7 linked regions of the Homo sapiens genome follow. Each later gene encodes a partner of the first gene's protein in a complex. Each region holds a gene or a part of one and is shown in the gene's direction. Other genes may lie near its edges. The genes, in order: MED13, MED25, MED16, MED23, MED26, MED4 and MED31.

Evidence for each region.
Region 2: MED13 (region 1) and MED25 share a complex: the UniProt entries of both Homo sapiens proteins name them as parts of the mediator complex.
Region 3: MED13 (region 1) and MED16 share a complex: the UniProt entries of both Homo sapiens proteins name them as parts of the mediator complex.
Region 4: MED13 (region 1) and MED23 share a complex: the UniProt entries of both Homo sapiens proteins name them as parts of the mediator complex.
Region 5: MED13 (region 1) and MED26 share a complex: the UniProt entries of both Homo sapiens proteins name them as parts of the mediator complex.
Region 6: MED13 (region 1) and MED4 share a complex: the UniProt entries of both Homo sapiens proteins name them as parts of the mediator complex.
Region 7: MED13 (region 1) and MED31 share a complex: the UniProt entries of both Homo sapiens proteins name them as parts of the mediator complex.

The regions. Positions count from the first base shown.
Region 1 is NC_000017.11:62,055,279-62,058,778, reverse strand, and holds part of MED13 (mediator of RNA polymerase II transcription subunit 13), read left to right. Parts: intron 1-3,500. UniProt on the Homo sapiens protein: Component of the Mediator complex, a coactivator involved in the regulated transcription of nearly all RNA polymerase II-dependent genes.
Region 2 is NC_000019.10:49,817,148-49,821,088, forward strand, and holds the start of MED25 (mediator of RNA polymerase II transcription subunit 25), read left to right. Parts: upstream 1-1,141; 5' UTR 1,142-1,194; coding exon 1,195-1,328; intron 1,329-1,423; coding exon 1,424-1,469; intron 1,470-2,024; coding exon 2,025-2,149; intron 2,150-3,941. UniProt on the Homo sapiens protein: Component of the Mediator complex, a coactivator involved in the regulated transcription of nearly all RNA polymerase II-dependent genes.
Region 3 is NC_000019.10:876,188-879,687, reverse strand, and holds part of MED16 (mediator of RNA polymerase II transcription subunit 16), read left to right. Parts: intron 1-2,507; coding exon 2,508-2,714; intron 2,715-3,500. UniProt on the Homo sapiens protein: Component of the Mediator complex, a coactivator involved in the regulated transcription of nearly all RNA polymerase II-dependent genes.
Region 4 is NC_000006.12:131,621,743-131,625,242, reverse strand, and holds part of MED23 (mediator of RNA polymerase II transcription subunit 23), read left to right. Parts: intron 1-253; coding exon 254-378; intron 379-1,780; coding exon 1,781-1,892; intron 1,893-3,263; coding exon 3,264-3,362; intron 3,363-3,500. UniProt on the Homo sapiens protein: Required for transcriptional activation subsequent to the assembly of the pre-initiation complex. Component of the Mediator complex, a coactivator involved in the regulated transcription of nearly all RNA polymerase II-dependent genes.
Region 5 is NC_000019.10:16,621,705-16,625,204, reverse strand, and holds part of MED26 (mediator of RNA polymerase II transcription subunit 26), read left to right. Parts: intron 1-3,500. UniProt on the Homo sapiens protein: Component of the Mediator complex, a coactivator involved in the regulated transcription of nearly all RNA polymerase II-dependent genes.
Region 6 is NC_000013.11:48,078,105-48,081,604, reverse strand, and holds part of MED4 (mediator of RNA polymerase II transcription subunit 4), read left to right. Parts: intron 1-1,611; exon of another isoform or gene 1,612-1,629; coding exon 1,630-1,761; exon of another isoform or gene 1,762-1,828; intron 1,829-3,500. UniProt on the Homo sapiens protein: Component of the Mediator complex, a coactivator involved in the regulated transcription of nearly all RNA polymerase II-dependent genes.
Region 7 is NC_000017.11:6,642,811-6,645,708, reverse strand, and holds the end of MED31 (mediator of RNA polymerase II transcription subunit 31), read left to right. Parts: intron 1-1,049; coding exon 1,050-1,242; 3' UTR 1,243-2,398; downstream 2,399-2,898. Other genes in the region: TXNDC17 (thioredoxin domain-containing protein 17), read right to left, coding at 2,690-2,758. UniProt on the Homo sapiens protein: Component of the Mediator complex, a coactivator involved in the regulated transcription of nearly all RNA polymerase II-dependent genes.

The DNA.
Region 1 (3,500 bases):
ATGATTTTTGGATCAGGATTTGTGCTAACTAGTATTAGCCAAACTATAACATTCCAGAAGGTTATTTGTTCAAAAAATCTCTTGAATTCCAAAGCCAAACATAGATGATTTTCTTACTTTTTGCTTTATCCTCTATAGGATAATGATTAGTTGAATCGGGGTCGATATGTTTTGATACAAAAAGGATTAGGGAATAAAACTCCTTTGGGGTTACAGCTTTTTTCTTTCTTTCTTTCTTTTTTTTTTTTTTTTTTTTTTGAGATGAAGTCTCGCTCTGTCTCCCAGGCTGGAGTGTAGTGGGGCGATCTTGGCTCACTGCGACCTCCGCCTCCCAGGTTCAAGCGATCCTTCTGCCTCAGCCTCCCGAGTAGTTGGGACTACAGGCATGTGTCATCACGCCTGGCTAATTTTTGTATTTTTGGTAGAGATTTTAATAGGAGTTTCGCCATGTTGGCCAGGCTGGTCTGGAACTCCTGGCCTCAGGTGATCTGCCCGCCTCAGCCTCCCCAAGTGCTGGGATTACAGGCATGAGCCACCATGCCTGGCCCCTTTTTTTTAAAAATTGTATTTTGTAGCTTTGTTTAGTGGTTGTGTGATAGTGGGTGAAAGAGGTATAAAATGGGTGATGGGAAAATCTTAGCTCAGTCCCTCTGGTCAAGAATCTCTGTGGTGGGTAGGACTGGTACTTTTAAGTGTACTGTTAATTTGCTTCAGAGCAAGATTGTATCATTTTCATTAATGTGGTCTTGAAGGAGAGTTTTCTGTGTATTTTTATTCTGTGTTCTAACATTTTTGGAATTCAATTGCTGTCATCATTGGCTTTTATTCTTTCCCTTTAAATAAAAATAAAAGCAAACACTGCGTCCTCTCCCATTTGTCATCTTAAAAAAATCATAGCAAGTTAGACTGTGATGAGACTCTTTGAGAAAACTGATACCTTGTGAACTAAAAAAACTCAGGGCTAAAAATATTTGTTCTTTTTCCTGGCTCCTGAGGTCTGTAAAGTAGATTTTAGTAACATGTTCAGATAGTTTTATTATACCAGAATTTTATCATAATGAATAGTGCTCAAACTAAGTGGACTATTGTTCTGAATTTAATTTTGGATGTTTTAATTGAAGGATATTAACTGTAGTGGACTTTAACCTTAAATGACAGCTGTTAATAGGATTGACAGATAGATAAACAGCCAGGCATAGGAATCTAGTCCCAGCCAAACTAAAACATTGTTGTGTGCCCCACATAGTCTAAAGAGAGTAATTTATTTCTACTATTGTAAAATTTACTTGTGATGTGGCCCGACTCTTTAAATTGGCTAGTCTCCTAGGTGACAACTTCATTTGCTGTATTTCTTCTGCATACTGTTTTTTTGATCAAGTGTATCTTCTAAGTTTTCAAGCCAAACATAACATACTAGGCTGTTTTTAAATCAGTTTTCAAGTTTTGCCATAGATAATGATGCGGCCAACTTAAGGCTCTCGGTATATTTGTTGAATGTATAGGTTATTAATGATTATTCAGGAGAAACACTGATCTAGCATTTAAACATTTCTCTTTATTTCAGGAAATACATGGTATTTTCTACCATGTTAATTTTTGAGCCATTATTCATTAGCATATGTTACATTTTAATAGTTTTGCAAAATTGTATTGGAGAAGATTCATTTTTTACCACCGTGGAGATATTTAAAGATGCCATTTTTTTGAGAAAAATGTTGAGTGCAGGGTGTGTCTGCTTTTTTGGTTGTGATTTTTTTTCCCCATTGATAGAGAATTATTTTGATGACTTATCACATACTTTGGCACTACTGTAATCTGCATCTTCAGGAAAAAAATATGGTAATCAAATTTAGCATTTGTGTTTTCTTCCAATAAATAGTCCATAAAAATTTCAAGAAACACTGATGATTAAGAACTGTAATGCTAATAGTAACAGAAAAGTACTAAGAATGCAGAGTTGAACTTTATTTTCTCTGGACATAGAGCTACAAGAGAAGGAATTTTTTTTTCTTTTTTTTGTAGGGATGGAGGTCACACTTTGTCTCACTCAGCCTGCAGTGCTTAATCATAGCTCACTGCAGCCTCCGACTCCTGGACTCAAGCAATCCTCCCACCTCAGCTTCCCCAGCAGCTGGGCCTACAGGCATTGCCACTATGCCCTACTAACTAAAAAAAGTTTTTTGGAGTCAGGGTCTTCCTGTATTGCCAGGCTAGTCTTGAACTCCTAGCTTCAAGTGATCCTTCTGTCTTAGCTTCCCAAGTAGCTGGGATTACAGGCATGAGTCATTGCACCTGGCTAGAGGAGGAAAATAGTTATATAGATTAAGCAGACTTTTTCTATTAGGCTCTGGTTAAGTTCAAAAGAGATAGGTAAAGATTTGCCATATGTTCCCTTCTCCTTCCCCTCCCTATTATAATGCTGGTGTTGAGATTCAAGAACTTGTTTCAATTAGTGTAAATAGTGCATATCACTATGCCTTGAGTGGGTTGGTTGTACCATTTCACTTTTCGTATCTGAATACAACGTGTAGAAAGTACTTTTATTACAGTTATTAGATTGTCAGGATATTAGAAACTTGGCTCAGTAGGCTTCTTGTTTCTAAGTGATTCCCAACAAAACCAAAAACCTTCAGACTTTATTGAGCGTTATTAGGACTTACTCTCGTTTTTCTCAGCAACAAAATATGAAATTATATTACTTTAGTGTAATGGTTGCTTAGTTGCTTGCCATATAGATGAGGACATACTTCAGAGATACGTTGGATTTAGAAAACCTCAACAGGTGGTCTCTACTTGTTTGTTTTATGCATAGCTCCTATTTAGTGTTAATGAGAATTGTGGGCACTGGGGACATAAGATGCCCACCCCCTCTGAAAGCATTAGAATAATGAGGGAGAAATGCTTCAAGATTAATACTGATTACTTTTCTAAACCACATTCAATATTCTTTTTTTTTTTGAGATGGAGTCTTGCTCTGTCACCAGGCTGGAGTGCAGTGGCGTGATCTCGGTTTACTGCAGCCTCTGCCACCCAGTTCAAGTGATTCTCCTGCCTCAGCCTCCCGGATAGCTGGGACTACAGGTGCATGCCATCTCGCCCAGCTAAGTTTTGTATTTTTAGTAGAGATGGGGTTTCACTATGTTGGCCAGGCTGGTCTTGAACTCCTGACCTCAGATGATCCACCTGCCTCGACCTCCCAAAGTGCTGGGATTATAGGCATGAGCCACCGCACATGGCCTCACATTAAATATTCTTAAATCATTTGACTGCAAGTTTAACTAAAATAGATTTTACAAAATAAAACCATAAAATTTTCAGAATTTCATGTGAAAATTTATAAATTGTGCTTTAGCTTTTACTATTGCAAAGGTTTTTTTTTTTGTTTTTTTGAGTCAGAGTCTCGCTATGTCGCCCACAGTGGAGTGCAGTGGTGTGATCTCAGCTCACTGCAACTCCCATCTCTTGGGCTCAGGTGATTCTCATGCCTCAGCCTCCTGAGT
Region 2 (3,941 bases), on another chromosome or scaffold:
TGCGTAGTACATTTCTGTCAACAAACACGCTAGAAAGATTTTCCCAGTTGGCCGTATATTTTTCAACTTGGTTTATACAGTCTTTTGGGAAAAATTAATGAAGACTACGTTTTCTAACTTTGCTGTAGTGCTAAGAAACTCCATGGCAGTCATTAAGATTTTTTCCCTTCAGATAGTTTTCGGGTTTCATTTGTTGCACTTACATTTTTAATCCACCTGGAATGTATTTACGTTCTAAGCCAGTTTCTGGCTCCTCTCCCAGAAAACAACGCTCAGGTGTTGCTTAGCAACCCGCACTTGGTTTGGTGTTCGGCTTCTTTTCGGGGGGGAAAACAACTGCCCTCCCTTCCAAGTTGAGGACGACCTTAAAGCGTCGCCTAGTAACCTCGTTTCCGCCGATGTGATTGGATCCTTCTCGCGTCCCTCCCCTAGTCCCCACGCCCGAAAGAACAGAACCAGAAACTTAATCTAACGGTTACAAAACAAGGGCAGCGGGCCCGGCGCGGTGGCTCACGCCTGTAATCTCAGCACTTTGGGAAGCCAAGGCGGGCGAATCACTTGAGGTCAGGAGTTCGAGAACAGCCTGGCCCACAGGGTGAAACTCTTTCTCTACTAAAAATACAAAAATTAGCGGGGCGTGGTTGCGGGCACCTGTAATCCCAGCTACTCGGGAGGCTGAGGCAGGAGAATCGCTTGAACCCGGGAAGCGGAGGTTGTAGTGAGCCGAGATCGCGCCACTGCACTCCAGCCTGGGCGACAGGGCGAGACTCCCGTTTCGAAAAAACAAACAAACAAAAAACAAAACACAAAAACGAAAACAAGGGCAGCGTACGCGTTGCATAGCAACCAGGTCTCCTGCCCCTCCCTTTGAGACAAGAGGCGGACCTGGACGCCCCGCTCAAAGATGGCGGCTGACTGAGCCGCTTTCAATTTATTTAGCTTTTGACAATAATTCCGTCTAACCCATCAGGCCCCTAGAAGGGCTAACTATGCCCTTTCTGAGTCTTCCACGCGGTGGGGGCGAAGGAGGATGGAGCTAGAACGAAGCCTCAGCGCGTGCCCCGCACAAACATGGCAGCATTCCCAGCAGCCCTAAACCGCCCGACGCGAGCGCGCGCGCGGCGCAGGCGCATTTCTGCTCATTCCGCGGCGTCGGCTGCGGCTGCAGTGGTGGTGGCGGGTACCGCACGGGGTATGGTCCCCGGGTCCGAGGGCCCGGCCCGCGCCGGGAGCGTGGTGGCCGACGTGGTGTTTGTGATTGAGGGTACGGCCAACCTGGGACCCTACTTCGAGGGGCTCCGCAAGCACTACCTGCTCCCGGCCATCGAGTGAGTGCTGTTTCCGCGACTCTAACCCCGCCCTCCCACTTCAGTTTCGCACAGTTTCTTGCCTGACTCCGACCTTTCACTTCCTACCCTCACAGGTATTTTAATGGTGGTCCTCCTGCTGAGACGGACTTCGGGGGAGACGTGAGTCTAGGGACTCCTGGGCCTGAGGGAGGAGGGGCCGGGGGCCTGGACTCCTGGGTCTGAGGGAGGGAGAAAGGGCTGGGCCTGGACTCCTGAGTTTGAGGGAGGAGGGGCTGGGGGTCTGGACTCCTTGTTCTGAGGGAGGAGGGCCTGGGGGCCTGGACTCCTGGGTCTGAGGGTGGAGGCGCTGGGGCCCGGATTCCTGGGTCCGAGGGAGGAGGGAGCTAGGGGCCCAGATCCCTGGGTCTGAGGGAGGAAGGGCTGGGCGTCTGGACTGCTGGGTCTGAGAAAGGAGGAGCTGAGGCCTGGATTCCTGGGTCTGAGGGAGGAGGTGCTGGGGCCTGGGCTCCTGGGTCTGAGGGAGGAGGGGCCGGGGGCCTGGATTCCTGGGTCTGAGGGAGAAGGGGCTGGGGCCGAGATTGCTGGGTCTGAGGAAGGAGGAAGCTGAGGAGTTCCTGGTTCTGGAGGAACGGGAAGCTGGGAGCCCTGATTCCTTCTCTAAGGGAAAAGGGAATTGAGGTCCCAGATTAAAAGTTTTCTGTCCTCCCCTCCCAGTATGGGGGGACCCAGTACAGCCTCGTGGTGTTCAACACAGTGGACTGCGCTCCCGAGTCCTACGTACAATGTCACGCTCCCACCAGCAGCGCCTATGAGTTTGTCACCTGGCTCGATGGCATTAAGTGAGCTTTCCCCCACTTGGGGTGGGTTGCTGGTCCCTGTGAGGGGCCGTGAATGAGTGATGGCTTGGGGTGGTTGGTGTCCCCGTGAGAGGCTGTGAATAAGTGATGGCTTGGGGTGGTTGGTGTCCCCGTGAGGGGCTGTGAATAAGTAATGGCTTGGGGTGGTTGGGGTCCCTGCGAGGGGCCGTGAATGAGCGATGGCTTGGGTTTGAGCTGCAGGAAACATCTCATACATTAAGGGATTGAAAGGACTTTGAGGGTGATTGTGTTTTTGTCAGAAGTCACTTTTGTGGTGGCTTCTGTGTGCTCAGCAATGTTGCCATCAGTTTAGAAGTAGGAAAAACCTTCCCATTCAGGGAGGCCTGGCTGAGCTCCAGCAGCCACCTTGTACTCCCTGTGTGATTGTCCCCTTTCTGTCCTCTCTTTTTCCGTCTACCCCTGTCCTCCTTTTCCAGATGGGTACATTGTAGCCTCAGTGCAGGGGGATGGGTCAGAGCCAGGATAGATCCCTCTGTGGCTTGGGTCAGAATTTTTTTTTTTTTTTTTGAAACAGTGTCTTGCTCTGTCTCCCAGGCTTGTAGTGCAGTGGCACAGTCGTGGCTCACTGCAACCTGTACCTCCTGGGTTGAAGCGATTCTTCTGCCTCAGCCTCCCAAGTAGCTGGGATTACAGGCACACGCCACTATGCCCAGCTAATTTTTTTTTTTTTTTTTGTATTTTTAGTAGAGACAGTTTCACTGTGTTGGCCAGGCTGGTCTCAAACTCCTGACCTCATGTGATCTGCCTGCCTCAGCCTCCCAAAGTGCTGGGATTATAGGGGTGAGCCACTGTTGCGGGATTCAGGACGACAGGAGAGAGCCCTCGGGTTAAAGCAGGAGAATCTTTCATTGAGTGCACTCAGGCCCAAGCCGACTCACGTCCAAAGACGGCCCAGAACAAAGGTAGCACTTGACTTTTATACACACTTCACAAAAGGGGGTGGGCTAGCTTGAAGCAAGCTTACAGTGGCGTGACAGCAGGGATACAGAGGCAGAACAAAAACAGTTAATCAAATTGTTGTAACAGGTTTATAACTCAGGATTGCACATAACCGTTGCTATGCAACCCAGATGTCCCTTATCTAGGTTAGCCTAGGCACGGGCTTATCCCATAACCTTCACTGTGGTGCCCAGGCAGCTCAGGCTTCTCATGACCTTCGCTGTACTTCTTAGATAAAACAGAATACTTGAAGTCATGAGTTACAGAGAACAGGAATCTATAAACTCATTCCATAAAACAAAGGAAAATTTGTTTTTTCTTCTCTCTATGTTGAGGGAGTGCTGGGAGAGTCTCCAAGAGCACTTTAGATAGTATTATCAAGACTTTTCCTGGGTCTGGGCTGTGCCCATTGCTGCCTCTCAGACAAGTCAGCCTAATACATAGAACTTATTTCTCTTTTTAATTTTTTTTCTTTAATTTCCTGCCTCACCACCACGCCTGGCGCTGGATCGGATTTTGATAGTTGACATTGTAGAGTCTGGAGTCAGGCAGACGGGTTAAATCCTGGCTCTTCCAGCACAGAACTAACTCTCAGACCCAGGAGTCTGTCCCCTCTGTGCCTAGTATCTCACTTGTGAAGTGGGGATGTGGATAGTACTTGTATTAGTATTTCATTGTATTACTTATTCTTAGCTGTATAATAGATTACCACCAAATAATGGCTGCATACTGCAAACATTTATTATCTAACGCAGTTTCTGTGAGTCAAGGACACAAGAGTGGCTTGGCTGGATGGTTGGGCTGAGGGTCTCAC
Region 3 (3,500 bases), on another chromosome or scaffold:
GTGGGGCTGGGGCTGGTGGGCATTGACAACCAGGGGAACGTGAGCTGCTGGGGCACGTGGGGCTGGGCTTGGGGGGCATTGACAACCACGGGAAGGTGAGCTGCTGGGCATTGACAACCAGGGGAAGGCGAGCTGCTGGGGCGTGGCCCTGGTAGGCATTGACAACCAGGGAAAGGCGAGCTGCTGGGGCACGTGGGGCTGGGGCTGGTGGGCATTGACAACCAGGGGAAGGCGAGCTGCTGGGGCACGTGGGGCTGGGGTTGGTGGGCATTGACAACCAGGGAAAGGTGAGCTGCTGGGGCATGTGCGGCTGGGGCTGGTGGGCATTGACAACCAGGGGAAGGTGAGCTGCTGGGGCACGTGGGGCTGGGCTTGGTGGGCATTGACAACCATGGGAAGGTGAGCTGCTGGGCATTGACAACCAGAGGAAGGCGAGCTGCTGGGGCATGTGGGGCTCGGCTTGGTGGGCATTGACAACCATGGGAAGGTGAGCTGCTGGGCATTGACAACCAGGGGAAGGCGAGCTGCTGGGGCACGTGGGGCTGGGGCTGGGGCTGGGGCTGGGGGGTATTGACAACCAGGGGAAGGCGAGCTGCTGGGGCACGTGGGGCTGGGGCTGGGGCTGGTGGGCATTGACAACCGGGGGAAGGTGAGCTGCTGGGACATGTGGGGCTGGGGCTGGGGCTGGTGGGCATTGATAGCCAGGGGAAGGTGAGCTGCTGGGGCACGTGGAGCTGCGGCCGGGGCCGGGGCCGGGGCCGGGGCCGGGGCTGGTGGACATTGACAACCAGGGAAAGGTGAGCTGCTGGGGCACGTGGGGCTGGGGCTGGGGCTGGGGCTGGTGGGCATTGACAACCAGGGGAAGGGGAGCTGCTGGGGCACGTGGGGCTGGGGCTGGTGGGCATTGACAACCAGGGGAAGGGGAGCTGCTGGGGCACGTGGGGCTGGCCCTGGTGGGGATTGACAACCAGGGGAAGGCGAGCTGCTGGGGCACGTGGGGTTGGGGCTGTTGGGCATTGACAACCAGGGGAAGGTGAGCTGCTGGGGCACGTGGGGCTGGGGTTGTGGCTGGTGGGCGTTGACAACCACGGGAAGGTGAGCTGCTGGGGCATGTGGGGCTGGGGCTGGGGCTGGTGGGCATTGACAACCACGGGAAGGTGAGCTGCTGGGGCACGTGGGGCTGGGGCTGGTGGGCATTGACAGCCAGGGGAAGGTGAGCTGCTGGGGCACGTGGGGCCGGGGCCGGGGCCGGGGCTGGGGCTGGTGGACATTGACAACCAGGGAAAGGTGAGCTGCTGGGGCACGTGGGGCTGGGGCTGGGGCTGGGGCTGGTGGGCATTGACAACCACGGGAAGGTGAGCTGCTGGGGCACGTGGGGCTGGGGCTGGTGGGCATTGACAACCAGGGGAAGGCGAGCTGCTGGGGCCCGTGGGGCTGGGGCTGGGGCTGGGGCTGGTGGGCATTGACAACCAGGGGAAGGTGAGCTGCTGGGGCACGTGGGGCTGGGCTCGGTGGGCATTGACAACCACGGGAAGGTGAGCTGCTGAGCATTGACAACCAGGGGAAGGTGAGTTGCTGGGGCACGTGGCGCTGGGGCTGGGGCTGGGGGGCATTGACAGCCAGGGGAAGGCGAGCTGCTGGGGCACGTGGGGCTGGGGCTGGGGCTGGTGGGCGTTGACAACCACGGAAAGGTGAGCTGCTGGGGCACGTGGGGCTGGGGCTGGGGCTGGGGCTGGTGGGCATTGACAACCACGGGAAGGTGAGCTGCTGGGGCACGTGGGGCTGGGGCTGGTGGGCATTGACAACCAGGGGAAGGCGAGCTGCTGGGGCATGTGGGGCTGGGCTTGGTGGGCATTGACAACCACGGGAAGGCGAGCTGCTGGGGCACGTGGGGCTGGGGCTGGGGCTGGGGCTGGGGCTGGTGGGCATTGACAACCAGGGGAAGGTGAGCTGCTGGGGCACGTGGGGCAGGGGCTGGTGGGCATTGACAACCAGGGGAAGGCGAGCTGCTGGGGCACGTGGGTCTGGGGCTGGGGCTGGGGCTGGGAGGGTGCCAGAGGGAGGCGCCCCCGGGGGAAGGGACCACAGGTGCAAGCCCCTCGCCAGCCCCTGCCTGCGCTGCCTTGTCTGTGTGATGGGTTCGTCTTGTTGAGCGAGGTCAGTGGGGTGGCTCACAGCACGTATTAGGAGCTTCGTAACTAGGAGCTGTTGAGAGGACCGCCTTTCACGGGGTAGACTCCTCAGGTAAAGCAGACGAGTGTAAGCCTGGCTCGGCATCCAGTGCAGTCGGGGCTCAGGGAGGTTTCCTTCCCTGTTCCCAGAGGCATTGTGCATGACCCTGACAGAAAGGTACAGACGCTACAGACACATGCGCGCACACAGGCCCACACACGGGCGTGCGCGCACACAGATCCACACACGTGCCGCAGCCCCAGGGCCCCATTCCTCTCCCGGCTGAGGGCGCAGCCCCATCTCACCGGGCTCTCCTTGGGCTCTGTCTCTGGCAGCTGAGCGTGCTCCGCCTCTCACCTTCCATGGGCCACCCGCTGGAGGTGGGGCTGGCGCTGCGGCACCTGCTCTTCCTGCTGGAGTACTGCATGGTGACCGGCTACGACTGGTGGGACATCCTGCTGCACGTGCAGCCCAGTATGGTACAGAGCCTGGTGGAGAAGCTGCACGAGGAGTACACGCGCCAGACCGCTGCCCTGCAGCAGGTGGGGGCCCGTGGCAGGTGGGGCCCCGTGGCAGGTGGGGGCCCTGTGGCAGGTGGGGGCCCCGTGGCAGGTGGGGCCCCGTGGCAGGTGGGGGCCCCGTGGCAGGTGGTCCCGTGCCAGGTGGGGCTGTCCCTGTGGCAGGCAGGGGCCCCGTGGTCAGTAAAGTGCCAGCAGCAGGGAGGGAGTTCCCTTGGAGGGTGGAGGAGGTCTCTGCAGCAGTTGTAGAGGTCCCCACGGCAGATGTGGGGGTTGTGGCAGCTGGAGGGGTTTCCCTGCGGCAGGTTGGGGGCTCTATGGCAGGCGGAGGGCAAGAGGGGCAGGTAGCCTGTGGCAGGTGAGGCTGCGTGTGGGGTGTGCTCCCAGAGGCCCGTCCAGGAAAGCTGCACCTCAGAGAAGCAGTTTCCTTCCTTACCTGGGAAGTTTCTTCTGTAACACGTTAAGCCCCACAGGTAAGGCCTGATCCCCCCTGGACGGCTCCCCTCTCCAGTGTTCCCAGTCTGGAGGTATCTTTCTAAGCCATCCTCTCAGAATGTGATGGGTACCAGGATGCACACCCGGTGGCCCTGTGGTGTGAGGCCTCAGCAAACACGGTCAGAAGATGAACACACAGAGACCCGCCCGTCGGAAGGAGAGGAGGGAGCGGATACGGAGGCCCACGTGCCAGAAGGGTCCCTTGCAGTGGTGTGGTTATGTGCCTGCAATCCCAGAGTGTCCTCGAAGGACCTCAGATCTAACGAGCTCAGCCGGCAGCTGCACGTGGGACCAGCCCTCTGAGCTTCACTTGTT
Region 4 (3,500 bases), on another chromosome or scaffold:
ACTACTTTTGAAGTTCCCATGTAATAAAAATGGTAGCATTTTATCTATGTAATTACAAAATGTTAAGCTTAATGTGACAAATACTAAATCTGAATTTTTTAATTTTGCTTTTTTTAAAAATTATTTTCATCCACAGATGCTCATAGTGAAGTATTTCTTTCATAGTATTGGTATACTTCCAGTTGTAGTATTAGCTATTGGTTATAAAAATGTAACTTTAGACCCCAAGTAAAATCATTCTCTCATTTTCCAGGAGTCTCATGAACAGTGTATCCAGTGGATTGTTAAGTTTATTCATGGTCAGCATAGTCCTAAAAGAATTTCTTTTCTTTATGACTGCTTAGCAATGGCAGTTGAGACTGGTCTCCTTCCACCCAGGTACGTTTAATGGGTATGAGCAATCTGAAGAATTTTCTTTTCTATATGTGATTGGAAATTGGTTGAGGTTGTTGTTGTAAAAAGGTAAGAGAATGAAGAAGAAGGTGAGGTTTATCAAGTAATCCTTTATATAATACCTCAGGTTTTAGTTTCTAGGAGTAATAGTCTTTGAATTAGGTAATGCTTGTGGGCTCAAAACCAGATGTTTCTGCCCAGGGGCTGAAATTAATCACTTTAATTAGTTTGTAACCCTTTACTTTTGCTGCACAACCTCAACACCTTATGGCTTAAAACAGTAATACTCAGGTTTTAAAATTATTCATGGTTTTAGTGGTTGACTCGGCTTAGGAGACACTTTTTACTCAAGGTCATAATGATTGTGATCAATGTGGCTAGGGCTGGAGCATGGCAAAAGCTTCCCCACTCAGATATCTGGTGGTTGATTCCTGGCTGTCATCTGGAACCTCAGCTGGGATTATTAGCCAGAACCTCCGCAGGCCCTCACCTTGTGGCCTAGACTTTCTCACCTCATGGTGGAGCCTAACAGCAAGTGTGCAAAAGAGGGCTAGGCAGAAATTGTATCACCTTGTCTTCTTGGAAGTCATACTGCATCCTTTTGGCCATAGTCTTAGGTCTGCCCAGATCTAAGGAGTGAGAACGTAGACTTTCCCCCTACCTCTCCTTGGGAGAAATGTCAGTGTCACATTTCAGAAGAAGATGTGGGATCAAAAATCTTGTTGCCATCCTGTTGGAAAAATCCAGTGTACCACAAGGTGATAGATGGTAAACATCTAACCGAAAGCTTTAGATAGACTTCTTTCTAGTAAAATATAACATAATGAATATTATTTCATTCTTACTTTGTTTTTGATCTTTCATACAAGTAAAAAATGTAAAATACTACACAGATTTATAAGTGTGCTTAGTAATCACTTTTATGAAAGACACTTGTGAGGATAAATATAATACAGTGCACAGACTATGGCTGTATTAGTCTGTCTGATGCTGCTAACAAAGATATACCCGAGACTGGGTAACTTATAAAGGAAAGAGGTTTAATTGACTCACAGTTTGGCATGGCTAGGGAGGCCTCAGGAAACTTAGAATAATGGCAAAAGGCACCTCATCACAGGGTGGTGGGAGAGAGAATGAGTGCCCAGTGAAGGGGGAATCCCCATATAAAACCATTAGATCTTGTGAGAACTAACTCACTATCATGAGAACAGTATTGGGGGAACTGTCCCTCATGATTTAAATGGTTTTTCTCATGACACGTGGGGATTATGGGAACTACAATTCAAGATGAGATTTGTGTGAGTACACAGCCAAACCATATTGGCGGCTATTAGAGAACTTGGAAAATTCTGTCTTGTAACTGGAATGGCTATTTCTTTTTTTATAGGCTGGTTTGTGAATCCCTGATAAACTCTGACACTCTTGAGTGGGAAAGAACACAGCTTTGGGCCTTAACATTTAAACTGGTTCGGAAAATAATTGGGGGAGTGGATTACAAGGTATATTTTTCTTATTATAAAAAGTGATTGCTTTCAGATATGATTGATTTTTCGGTGTGCATGTCTTATTTTCAGGTGAGAGAAATGATGTGGAAGCATTTACAAAATCTGTCTATTTCTTGTGGTATATTTCCTGAAAAGATTTAAAGTTACTCAGTTGTTTCCCTGGCTCCGCTACTCCCCTCCCAACATTCTTATAAATACAGGTAGCTGATACATTTTTATGAAGAGCAGGGAAGTCACAAAGCAGAATCCGTGTTCCTTCATGCTGCAAGTATTATGATCCCTTCAAATGAAAGCACAGAGCAGGGGTGTGTGGAACTGAGAAGGGATGTAGGCATCACTGATGAAGGGAGCAAGACCTGGCTTCACTTCTCTTGAACGTGGGTCTTACCTCAATTAATATCTTCAGCACTTTGGGCTCTTGACCAAAAACAACATACACTTTCTAGTTTTGTCTCATAAAACGGCTTAGGGACTCCATAGCTACAAAAGCCATTCTGCATCTTCAGGAGACTTTTGTTATTGTCCTTTTCCCGGGAATTACCAGTGTCTGACCCTGTGCTTTATTTCTGCATTTTCTCTAATCTGAAATGATTTAACAGGTAATGACCTAACAGATAATTATTAGTTTAAATCATGATTTATCACACAGTTAACTCTAAGAAGCTTTTGCTAATTATTTTCTCTTTACTCAGACTTATGCAATTTTCTTATTTGTATGATACTTCATAATTGTTCTTTTAGGTATATGTTCTGTCTTTTACAAGCTTGGTTACGTAGTTCATAGTCAATAAATAAATGTTGAATGAAATTTCTTCTTTATATATCAGATAATGTAACTGGTATTGGATATGTGGAAATGATTAACAGAATAGCCTTGGATATCCTTGAGAGATTAAGGTATGTGATGGATGAGAAGGGAGAATAGGCCAGTCACAGTGGCTTACACCTATAATCCCAGCACAAAAGGGAGTGAGCAGAAACAGTCCTCTACCAAAAAGTTTGATATTGTTACTCAAGTTTTCAGAGTGCATTGAAGTCTTGTTACAATATATTTCTGTCTATATGTATAATTAAGGTTTTTGACCCTTGTAACAACGTAAACCCTTCTAATGTTATGAGGGCCAAAAAAGCTTGACAAACTGTATAATGACTTTCTTTGCTCATTGTATTTTAAGACAGTCTTTAGAACTCTGTTTTGGAACATGACTCTTCTGTTGGGTTAATGTTAGGGACTTAGATTGTAACTGATTCAGAAAATTTAAAGGTGTGACCTTGAAGGAATATATCACCCTGAAACCTTCGGACGTTTTAGCTAACACAGTAGACACTACTTAATTTTAACCCATGTCTTTTTTCTTATATCAGGGTGTTCGAGATCTCTTAAAAGTGATTTTGGAGAAGATTTTGACAATTCCTAATACAGTGAGCTCTGCTGTTGTACAGCAGCTTCTGGCAGCAAGAGAGGTAATTTAGACATGTCTGAAATTCGTGATCATAACCTCAAAAAAGTCTAGCTTTGTTTAGGTCTGTGCTTTTAATACTTACGGTATTTTGTGAGATGCTCTATTTCTTCTACCAAAAAAAAATCACTTCTATTTTAAA
Region 5 (3,500 bases), on another chromosome or scaffold:
TAAATCCTCTACTCTCCTTTTGAAAAGGCTACTAACAGTTTTTCAGAGCAGTTGGAGCTTTTCTTTTCGTCGTGCACCCTTTCAGCCCAGGGTGTTGAAAATCTCTCCGAAGCGCAGTGTGTGCATGATTGTTCCAGCTTACTCTCACTGCATTGTGGGTAAAGTGAAGGACTGTGTCTTACTCTCGCACAGCAGTCATAGTGAGCAGTCTCCTCAGCAGGTGATTCGGTTCCCATCTGCCTGGGACACTCGTTCTGTGGAGGTATGAGCTTTATCTTCCTGTGCAGCACGCAAGCTTCTTGGGGATGTTTCCTGTCTTGTCTTCTCCCTCTAGAGCAGAAGCATTAGGCACACTTTCTACCTGCTGCTTAAACTGACTGAACCCTAGCATCCATCTTGGACCTGTGCCTGAGGAGCTACATTTGAGCCCCATTTTACCAAGAAGCCTTTGTGACCACTTTATGCCCAAGAGTTCAGTCGTGGAATATTCTAATGCAGAACTTTGGAGAGTGGAAGAATCACAGGTGGCTTGAGATGCTACTCAGTAGAACTGTGAGGAACACAGATGTTAAGTGATGATTAACAAACTTAGCTTTTAGAGGAAAGGTCCGACGAATAGTAGACGGTGTACTGCATCCTCATGGCAAGTAAAATAACCGCACAGGGCAGGGCTTGCTAGCTGCAGGTGAATGCCCTGTGTTCAGACCAGGGAGAGGCCTGAGAAGGTCCCGCAGCAAAGAGGGACTTGAACTAGCCCTGGCCGCGTGTGTCAGTGCCTCCAGCTGCCAGGCTCTGAGCGGGAAACGTCCTTGGGAGCTGCTTTCTTTTTCACAGCTCTTCAGGCAACAGAGACCAAGGGAGAGGTGACCGAGGCACTCTGCAGAGAGACACAGCAAGAAAGATCATTTTCCCACCTAAGAATTGGAAGGTTGGATGTTGCTTACCTTGGTTTGCCTGCAGATTTCTTGTCCACAGGGTGGGATTGGGAACTGGTGTATGCACCCCATAAAGCTCCTTCCAGATCTAAGTTCAGATCCTAGAAGGGACAGCAGAGACTAATGTCAATTGTTCTAGAAGGGGTTTTTTTTTTTTAATATATCTTTGCAAGGTACATTGTGTGAAGTTTCTCAACTAACAAAATTCTAAACCAAGGTGTATGCTTTGTTAGTTTGTGTGGCACCCTGTCAGAGAGTTCTGCTTCTCCCCAACAGCCTTGTGAGTGGGGGAGCCAGTCTCCCCTTTTGCAGGTGCAGAAGCCAGCAGCATCAGGTAATAGGTGCTGCTCAGTGGGTGTCTCCAGGGGCAAGCAGAGGATAAAATGCTTTTGTTTCTTACTGACTTAATGGGAGGTGGTGGAACCAAAGTTAGGGACTTACCCAGAGTCATTAAGTGACAGTCCTTAGAGTCCTTTCAACTCTGAACACCACCACGCTGCCTTGAAAGTTGGAGAGATGGCTCCGGAAGAGGCACGAGGGGGCAGCATTTTTGAGCTGGTAAGAAAACGTGTGAGGATCCTGTAACGTCCCCTACAAGTGTATGTGAGATTACAGATTGGGGCTGGATTTACCTATGTTACATCTAACAGGGTGGTGATATGACATAGCCTGTCCCGTGAACATCTTAAGGTCTCTGTCACAGACAGAAACCTGGGCCAGACCACGGTGTGGCAACTAGCAACCGATGTGGAACTTTTCATGAATCTGTGTGACCAGTTTGCTCTCTACTTCAACATTACAGCACTTTTGATATTAACTTAAAATGCCATTTATTCTGCAGAAAAGCAGAATGGTGTAAATTGCAAAATGAAGGACTCTTGATTCTGACCCTATCCAAAATAGTAGAGGACCCTAAACCCAAACATGTAAATGCCACCTGATCCACAATTGCCCAGATTCAGGGACTCTCCTGTCTTTACTCTGTATATTGTGGCCAGGACACAGGAGAGGAGCAGCGTGGTGTTCTCTGACTTCGGGAAATGGAAAGGTAGCAAGTATCACCTGTGACACAGGTGTATGTCCTTGTCTTTGACTCATTCTGTCCCTCAGGAGAAAGTGGACTTTACAGTCTCTCCTCACTGAGGTTTCTGGGTGGTCCTCAGAATATGTTGTCCTGGTTGGAGGTCCCAGAGCCCTGGAGGACTGTCCAAGACCAGCATGTGGTCAGGGGCTTTGTTCTGGATACAGATGTAAAAAGGCACCATGGTCACGTCAGCCCCTGGGCAGCTGTGTAAGATAGGACATGTAGCTTAAGGGCGCCAAGGTCTCTTAGGTGAAGGAGGACACTTGGCTTTCCTTTTCTTGGTTTTGGGGTCTGCGAGCATCTTCTCAGATGGAGCTCTAGTTTAACCAGGCTGACTCCAGGTGACTCCAGTCCAGCGGGAGGGGTCCCCTGGCCACTTCCCCACTATCATCTCCTTCTGGAAACTGGGTGCTTTGTTACTGCACGTTGTGCTTTTCCTTTGTATTCCTAGTGGTAGGCTGTCCCACGTCTGCCTGGTTCCTTTGGGGACCAGGAGCTGGTTGTCAGAATGGGTGGCCAAGTTTGTGGCACAGTGAGTAAAGGAGAGGCAGCACATTTCATTCCAGTGTGGTCTCGCTAGCACCCATGCTTGGAGCACCTTCCAAAACAGCCGCTTTTCACTCTTAGAGCAGGGTGTGGATTTGCCATCGGGATTCCCTGAACCGGGAAGCATTTCCTGAGTAAGAAAGACATACCGATAATTCTACATGCTGTATTTAAAGGCCTTCTCTGAATACATTCCATGCCTTGGGAGGCACTGCAGTTACATTTCAGTCACTAACTGATTAGCAAGTGCTCGTGTGCTGGGTGTAGAGGGTACAGACCTGAAGATGCTCAGCCCCTGTGCCCAAGGGGCTTGGCGCCTCATAGGGAGGAGGGCAGATAGAGCATGGTCATGAACGAGCTTGGGTGGGGTGCCGTGGCATGTGGGCTCGGCAGTCAGGGATGGCCTGATGGTGCCGCAGGTCTCAAGTCCAAATGGAACAGTTCTCCCCGTGCCTTATTTGAAAACAGTTGAGAATTCTTAAGAATATGAGATGGCTTTCTTAAGTATATTCTATCATCCAGGTTTTCAGAATAAGTTCTGTAGTCAGGCAGGCAGGCTCTTCTTGCGTTGTCTCTGGCATGAGGGGAACAGAGCTGGAAGGAACAGTCGGCAAATTATTGCACAGTTTTCCCTCTCTGCTGTGGGATGGGGCACAGGCAGATGTCGAGCTGTGTCTGTGGGTATGGTTGGGGTGTCTGGGCTTGAGAAAATGGGAAGGGCCTTGGGGTAGCATTACATGGCACTGGTTTTCAGTATTTGGGGTGTTGTTGTACCCTCTGGATTAGATTTGCTCTGTGTGGCTTTTGGAGGCAAGCCTAGGGTGGGGAAGGTGAGAGTTCTGTGATGTGCTTAGGGAAGTGGTGGATTATTGTCAGAGCTGACTTAACACAGTCTGGGGGCACTGTGAGATGGCTATGTGGACATACCCAGGCCC
Region 6 (3,500 bases), on another chromosome or scaffold:
TGAAGATTCTTAGGTGACTATGTACAGACATAGATTTAATTTAAAATGTATTTATCCTTAGAAACCTCTGCCACATATTTTCACATCTTTAATGGTTTATAAGTAATGATATAGGCCATGGGTTTTATAAATTTGGTTTTCTGTGAAGCCATTGTTGCTAGGGACTGTGTTTCTTTCGTCTTTTGAAATAATAAATTGATAATTTTTTAAAGTACGAGATAATAATGTGATGCTTCTAAAGCTTTGGATTTATATACCATTTTATCAGGGCTGGCCAGAAGCAAACTCTTTAGAGCCATTAGGATTTCCACAAAGGTTCCAGCCTGAGAAAGACAATTCCAGTTCTCTTAGATGCTAAAGACAAAGCACTACGCACCCAACAGTGAACATACAGGCTTGGAAAGAGCTGGGATAATTAGACAGCAAAAGAGAGGATCAAGCTGCAACTATATTGACAGTGGATGAAACATAAAACAGGAGACGTAAGGTAGCAGCCTTATTGGAGGAAGGGGAAATATTAGTAGTTATCTCCACTTCAAAATAACTTCTGAAGGTGCTGTGTTACCATGCTGAAAGCACTAAGGGTGACTATAATTTTGGGGATGGATAAGCTGCAGTTGGTGAGATGTGCCCAAAAAGTCAATCCAAATCTGGTCAAGTTTTTGTCAACCACATACTGCTATTTAGTGTGCTTTCATGTTTGGGATGGACATTACCTGCTCCTGCTATTTTGCCACTTACACGAATTAGTTTCTGAATTACAAGATCAAAGAGGTTGGTTAGAAAAAGGTTTTATCTTAGACAAGGTGGCATGAGGAAAATAAAAGTAAAACAAAAAGATGAAAAATGTAAAAAAAAAAAAAGATTTTAAATTGAGACAGTCCTTCTATTAAACATTCCAGTCCTTTCTGTCTTATAAGTGTCATGATTTTTTTCTCCCTTGCAGCATAATCATTGTCATTTTCTTGCTAGAAAATACAGTTAAGTTTGAATAATTGAGATTATTATAATTTTCTTAAGTTGTCATCTGGAATGTCTACAAAAAAATGACATCTCTTTTTTTTTAAAGTGTAGAAAATAGTATATTCTTGGGAAGATTCAGAAAAGAAATTAAAATGCGTGTATTTTAAAAAGTAATATGCTATTAATAACAATTTATAAGGTGACTTTTATATTTCTTTCTTTCTTTTTTTTTTTTTTTTTTTTTTGAGACAGGGTCTTGCTCTGTGGCCCAGGCTGGAGTGCAGTGGTGCAATCTCAGCTCACTGCAACCTCTGCCTCCCGGGTTCAAGCGATTCTCCTGCCTCAGCCTCCCGAGTAGCTGGGATTATAGGTGCGTGCCACCACGCCTGACTAATTTTCTTATTTTTAGTAGAGACGGGGTTTCACCATGCTGGCCAGGCTGGTCTTGAACTTCTGACTTGAGGTGATCCACCCACCTCGTCCTCCTAAAGTGCTGGGATTACAGGCGTGAGCCACTGCACCTGGCCAGATGACTTCTGTATTTCAAAATTGAAAATGTAGCCTGAACTTTTCAGCATGAACCAGCGAAAATGAGTATGTCAAATAACATATTAACACTTATTTTTTAAAATATGATTGAATTAAATGCAGTCTTTATTGTTTTAGGGGACCCCCGGAGACCCTACCCAACTGATTTAGAGATGAGAAGTGGGTTACTGGGTCAGATGAACAATCCTTCCACTAATGGCGTGAATGGCCATTTACCAGGAGATGCACTTGCAGCAGGAAGATTGCCAGGTAATGTTAAGCCGAAGAGTGTTTTCAAACAGATCAGGGTTTTCCAGAGATGACAAGGTTGGAATATCTGGCGGTAAAGCAAGTTTGAGATTCCCGACACAATTTTTTTTTTTTTGTAAATTTGAGACAGTCTTGTTATGTCACCCAGGCTGGAGCGTGTTGGCGAAATCTTGGCTCCCAGGTTCAAGTGATTCTTGTGCCTCAGCCTCCCGAGTAGCTGGGATTACAGGTGTGTGCCACCAGGCCTGGCTAATTTTTGTATTTTTAGTGGATATGGGGTTTCGCTCTGTTGGCCAGGCTGGTCTCGAACTCCTGACCCCAAGCAATCACCTGCCTCAGCCTCCCAAAGTACTGGAATTACAGGTGTGAGCCAGTGTGCCTGCCTCTCAGACCCAGTTCATTGTAATAGCTAGATTCTTTGCCGGTTTATTCTGCTCTAAAGATTCTCCTTGAGGGAGGTATGAAATTAGAACAAGCTGCCTTTCTCTTATTTGTAAATATTACACTGTCTTCCTCAGGCATTTGGCCTCTCTTTTTAAATTATTGCTCTAAACATAGCTTTTTTATAATTGTGAAACATGCTATGTAAATAGAGTAAGATAGTTTACGGAATAAAGTGAACACACTCCTGAACAACCCCCAAGTTAACAAAATGAATAACAATAGCTTTTTATAAACTTTTATAACTTTATAAAATAGTATTTCTGTGAGACCCAGTTCATTCTGAGCTTCAGTTTTCCTCAAGTTTTTCATAGGTTTGTGCTATTTTTATATATATTTGTTTTATATTATTCCTCATCTTTTATAGTTTGTAGGTGACTTTTGTTTTGATGTGGTAGAACATTTGGGAAGTAGAAAAAGGCATTTAAAAAAGGAAAAAAATATACCCTTTCTGAGGCAGTCACTTTAAATATTTTAGCCTGTTTCCTTTTTTCCCCTATACATTTTTTGCTTAATGTTACATCATAAGGCTGTCCCTGTGTCATTAATAATGCTTTGTATGCATCATTTTTGTTAGCTACCTAAAGTACAACCAGGGGAACTCAACTGTGATATCCTTGGATATCACCTCATATTTCTCATGTTTTAAAAGTACAGGAAAAACAGATATGGGGAGTCACTGCCACATTTTGGACCAAGGAAGGGACAGACCTAAAAACAGTCTTCCCCAGCTCCATCCCAAGGCCGATACTCTCATATCATGGTGCTGTCATTGGAGAGGGTGCAGTGTAATGTGGCCCACTCCATGGCAGAGAAGTTAGATGAGGCATCAGAGGCCAGAGCTGGCAAGCAGGAAATTACCCACTGGGGTTCCAGGGAGACTTGCTGGGAAGCTGCCCTTTGGGATTCTGGTGAAACCTGCTAGGAAACCACCTTTAGAGGCGCCACCGAAAGTTGCTGTGGTGAACACCACTTAATGTCCTGCACACCAACCAGGCATCACAGCAGTAAAGGAGACAAAACCACCTGATCCAGGAAGTGAAACTTGTTTGCTAGTGGAGTCCCACCTGTGCCCTCTACTGACAAAACTTAATTGTGGCAGCTGGCAAAGGAGAAATGGTTTCAGGGGCCAGAGAGAAGGGTAGATTTGAGGCTAACTGGCATACCTTTCTAGTTAATACCATAACTCTTTCTTTTGACCCTTTAAAAATCTGCCTTCTTTATTTGAGTCTTGAACTATACCTGTTTATGTGCTCTGTCCCTTTGCTTCAGAAATACAGACTTTAAATGTAACTTGG
Region 7 (2,898 bases), about 55 Mb from region 1:
TAAAGAAATTTACATCCATTTAGTGTGGACTTTTGGATTCTTATTTTTAGTAGAATTATGAATTAGAATTATGTATTTTCTTGCGCTAAGTATTCCAGATTTGGCCATTGGGAGGCCCTTCAAGTTGGCTCCTGAATACTTTTGATCCTCCCAGGAATTTTTAGCACTTTTTCTTCTGGCACTACGTAATGTTCCAGGCTCATCTTGTACTTTTCCTGTCTTATCCCTGAATCACCCTTTTCTCCAAGGAAACCTGCTCCTTGGAAACCACAGTCTGGTCATTGTGTGTTCATTAGTACCACAGTGTCATTGCTTCTAGGCCCTGTCAGTACACAAAGCTCAAGAACTATATATATATGTATGTATGTGTATACATGCACACACATATACATGTTTATTCTATGTCTATATTAAAAGCCGTAAGTACATACTGATGTTTTCAATACCAGCTCAGTAACACAGGGTTCATTCTAGCCTTTTTCCTTTCCATGTCTATAACTCCTTTTCTGATAGCCAGAAATTTGGCTGTCCTTATCCACAGTATATTTGCTTGTCCAATCCTAGAGTATATCTAATTTCAGAATTGGTATATCCCTGTGGACAACAAGAGTACAATGTATGCGCATAGTCCTCTTTCACACTCACTTTTAAATGAAAGTTGTCTTTTTATCCCTATTGAAGGAAAAATGAGTAACTATCAATTAAACACATAATTACTAAAATATGTTCATGTTCTTCACGTTGGAAACCGCTAGAAGGGAATAGCATGGTTTGTCCCTAAATTTTCACTCTGCTTACCAGTTACTGTGTTGTGTGGTCTTGAGCAAGTTAATTTAATCTTTCTGAACTTAAACCTTCTCATTTTCGAAAATATTGAACACTGACCTTTGATGACTAATCGGGGAAAAAACCCTATGCTACCAGAGTGTACTAAGTTACTGTTATAGAAATGGTAGGCTACAAGATCGTTTTTAAGAGAATAACTGAATTATACCTTGGCATTATTTACCTAAATTATGTTGTTCATTCACTTACAAACTTAAACCCAGGTACCCTCAGTGTTTACACATGTTAGAGCTGCTCCAATATGAACACTTCCGAAAGGAGCTGGTGAATGCTCAGTGTGCGAAATTTATTGATGAACAGCAGATTCTACATTGGCAGCACTATTCCCGGAAGCGGATGCGCCTTCAGCAAGCCTTGGCAGAGCAGCAACAGCAAAATAACACATCGGGAAAATGAAAAACTGGATACAAACGAGGCACTTAATACATGTATATAATGTATTTCTTTTGTACAGTGAAGACAAAAAAAATGAAAACTCTTCCTATCTACCTTTATTATGGTAGCCCCTAGAACCTTTAGTGTGCTTTTTCATCCAACTTTTTATTGTTAATAGACTATTTCTGTTAAACCTGAATTGTTCTTTGATTTCCCTGTGGATTTGTAAGGTGTTTTTCTTTTTTACGCATTTAGCATAATCAGCTGATTAAGAATGGAAAAGTTAGGTGCTTTAGACCAAATAAGGCACTGGGGCATGGGGTAGGGGTGGGCCACCAAGTATACTGAATTCTAAGGCTAGCTGTTCCTGACATATAGTAGGGCAAGACCATCTCCTGGAACCTTACTGTCTCAGATCAACTACTCTACCACTCTACTCTAAGATGTAGTGAGAGTAGCGGAGTCACTGACCTCTTTAAATCATAGGACAGGAACTGCATAAAGGTTCTTGAATTCTGCAGGACAGGAAATAACTGTATTACCTGCTTTGCAAGGTGGCTTTAAGAATCACTGAATCACTGTGGCCTCACTTGACCTAGTCATGGCAGGACAACTAGTGGTTAGTTACTAACTGGACTCTTGACTTTAGAACAAACATGAGGAGCCTCAAATACTTGTGTTCATTTGGGAAAGCTACCATTGATTTGGGAGGTACCACAAACCAGGTGCTATGTTAAGTGCTTCCTTGAATTCTCATTTTATTCTAAGAACCTTGTTTATAGAAGAGAAAACTGAGGTTTGGACGGGGTGAGTAACTTGCCTGTGGTTACACAGCTAGTAAGTGGTAGAGTCAGTGTGACTGACTCCCAGCTTGGAGTTCTTCCCAGAACTGGGTTATAGAGTCTTTCCGGCCGCTCTCCGCCACCTGCCTCATCCCAAGTAAAGCACATTGAGACAGCTGCAAAACAAACTGCTTCTAGTGCTCAGGAGTCTGTTTTTTATTAAACAAAACAAAACTGCCTGAATTAAGCAGAGGCTAGATTAGAGGTCATGTGCTTTCCTTCAGTGGTGAGGTTAGGTTCTACATTCCAAAATCAAAGAAGGGGTTTCAGGAATATCATCAGTTGCTTTGCAGATGGAGATAACTTAAAATAAAAGATACTGATCTTTTGAGAGATTTGGAAGGTGTGCTCTGCACCTTTAGGAGTTTTTAGGTATTTCCGTCACCTTCAAGAATACGTTCCTTTGAGCCTTTACTGCTATTTCTGAAGACTTCTTTATATCTTAAAAATATCCATGTATTACAGGCAAACTAAAGGTTCATGGGCATTTTAATAGCACTCTATTGTTTAGACACATGCCAGTTTTTTTAACATCATTTATTGCTAACATGAATTCAAAGCAAGTATACAGTTTATTGATACTAGAACAAATCAGGACATCAAGACATGATTGCCATCCTAAAATCTTAATCTTCAGAGAACAACATTTCCACCAGGTTGGCCTGAAGACACTCAGATTCTACCAGTTTTTGAGGCTGTAAGAGAAAAACAGTCAAATCTTCACTACTTCTATAAAACGTTATTAGGAGTGGAATGAGTTCTGCCTTGAATGACACTCATCTTTGAACACAGAAATTACGCAATTCAGAAACTATCATCTAGTTATAACAAGTTT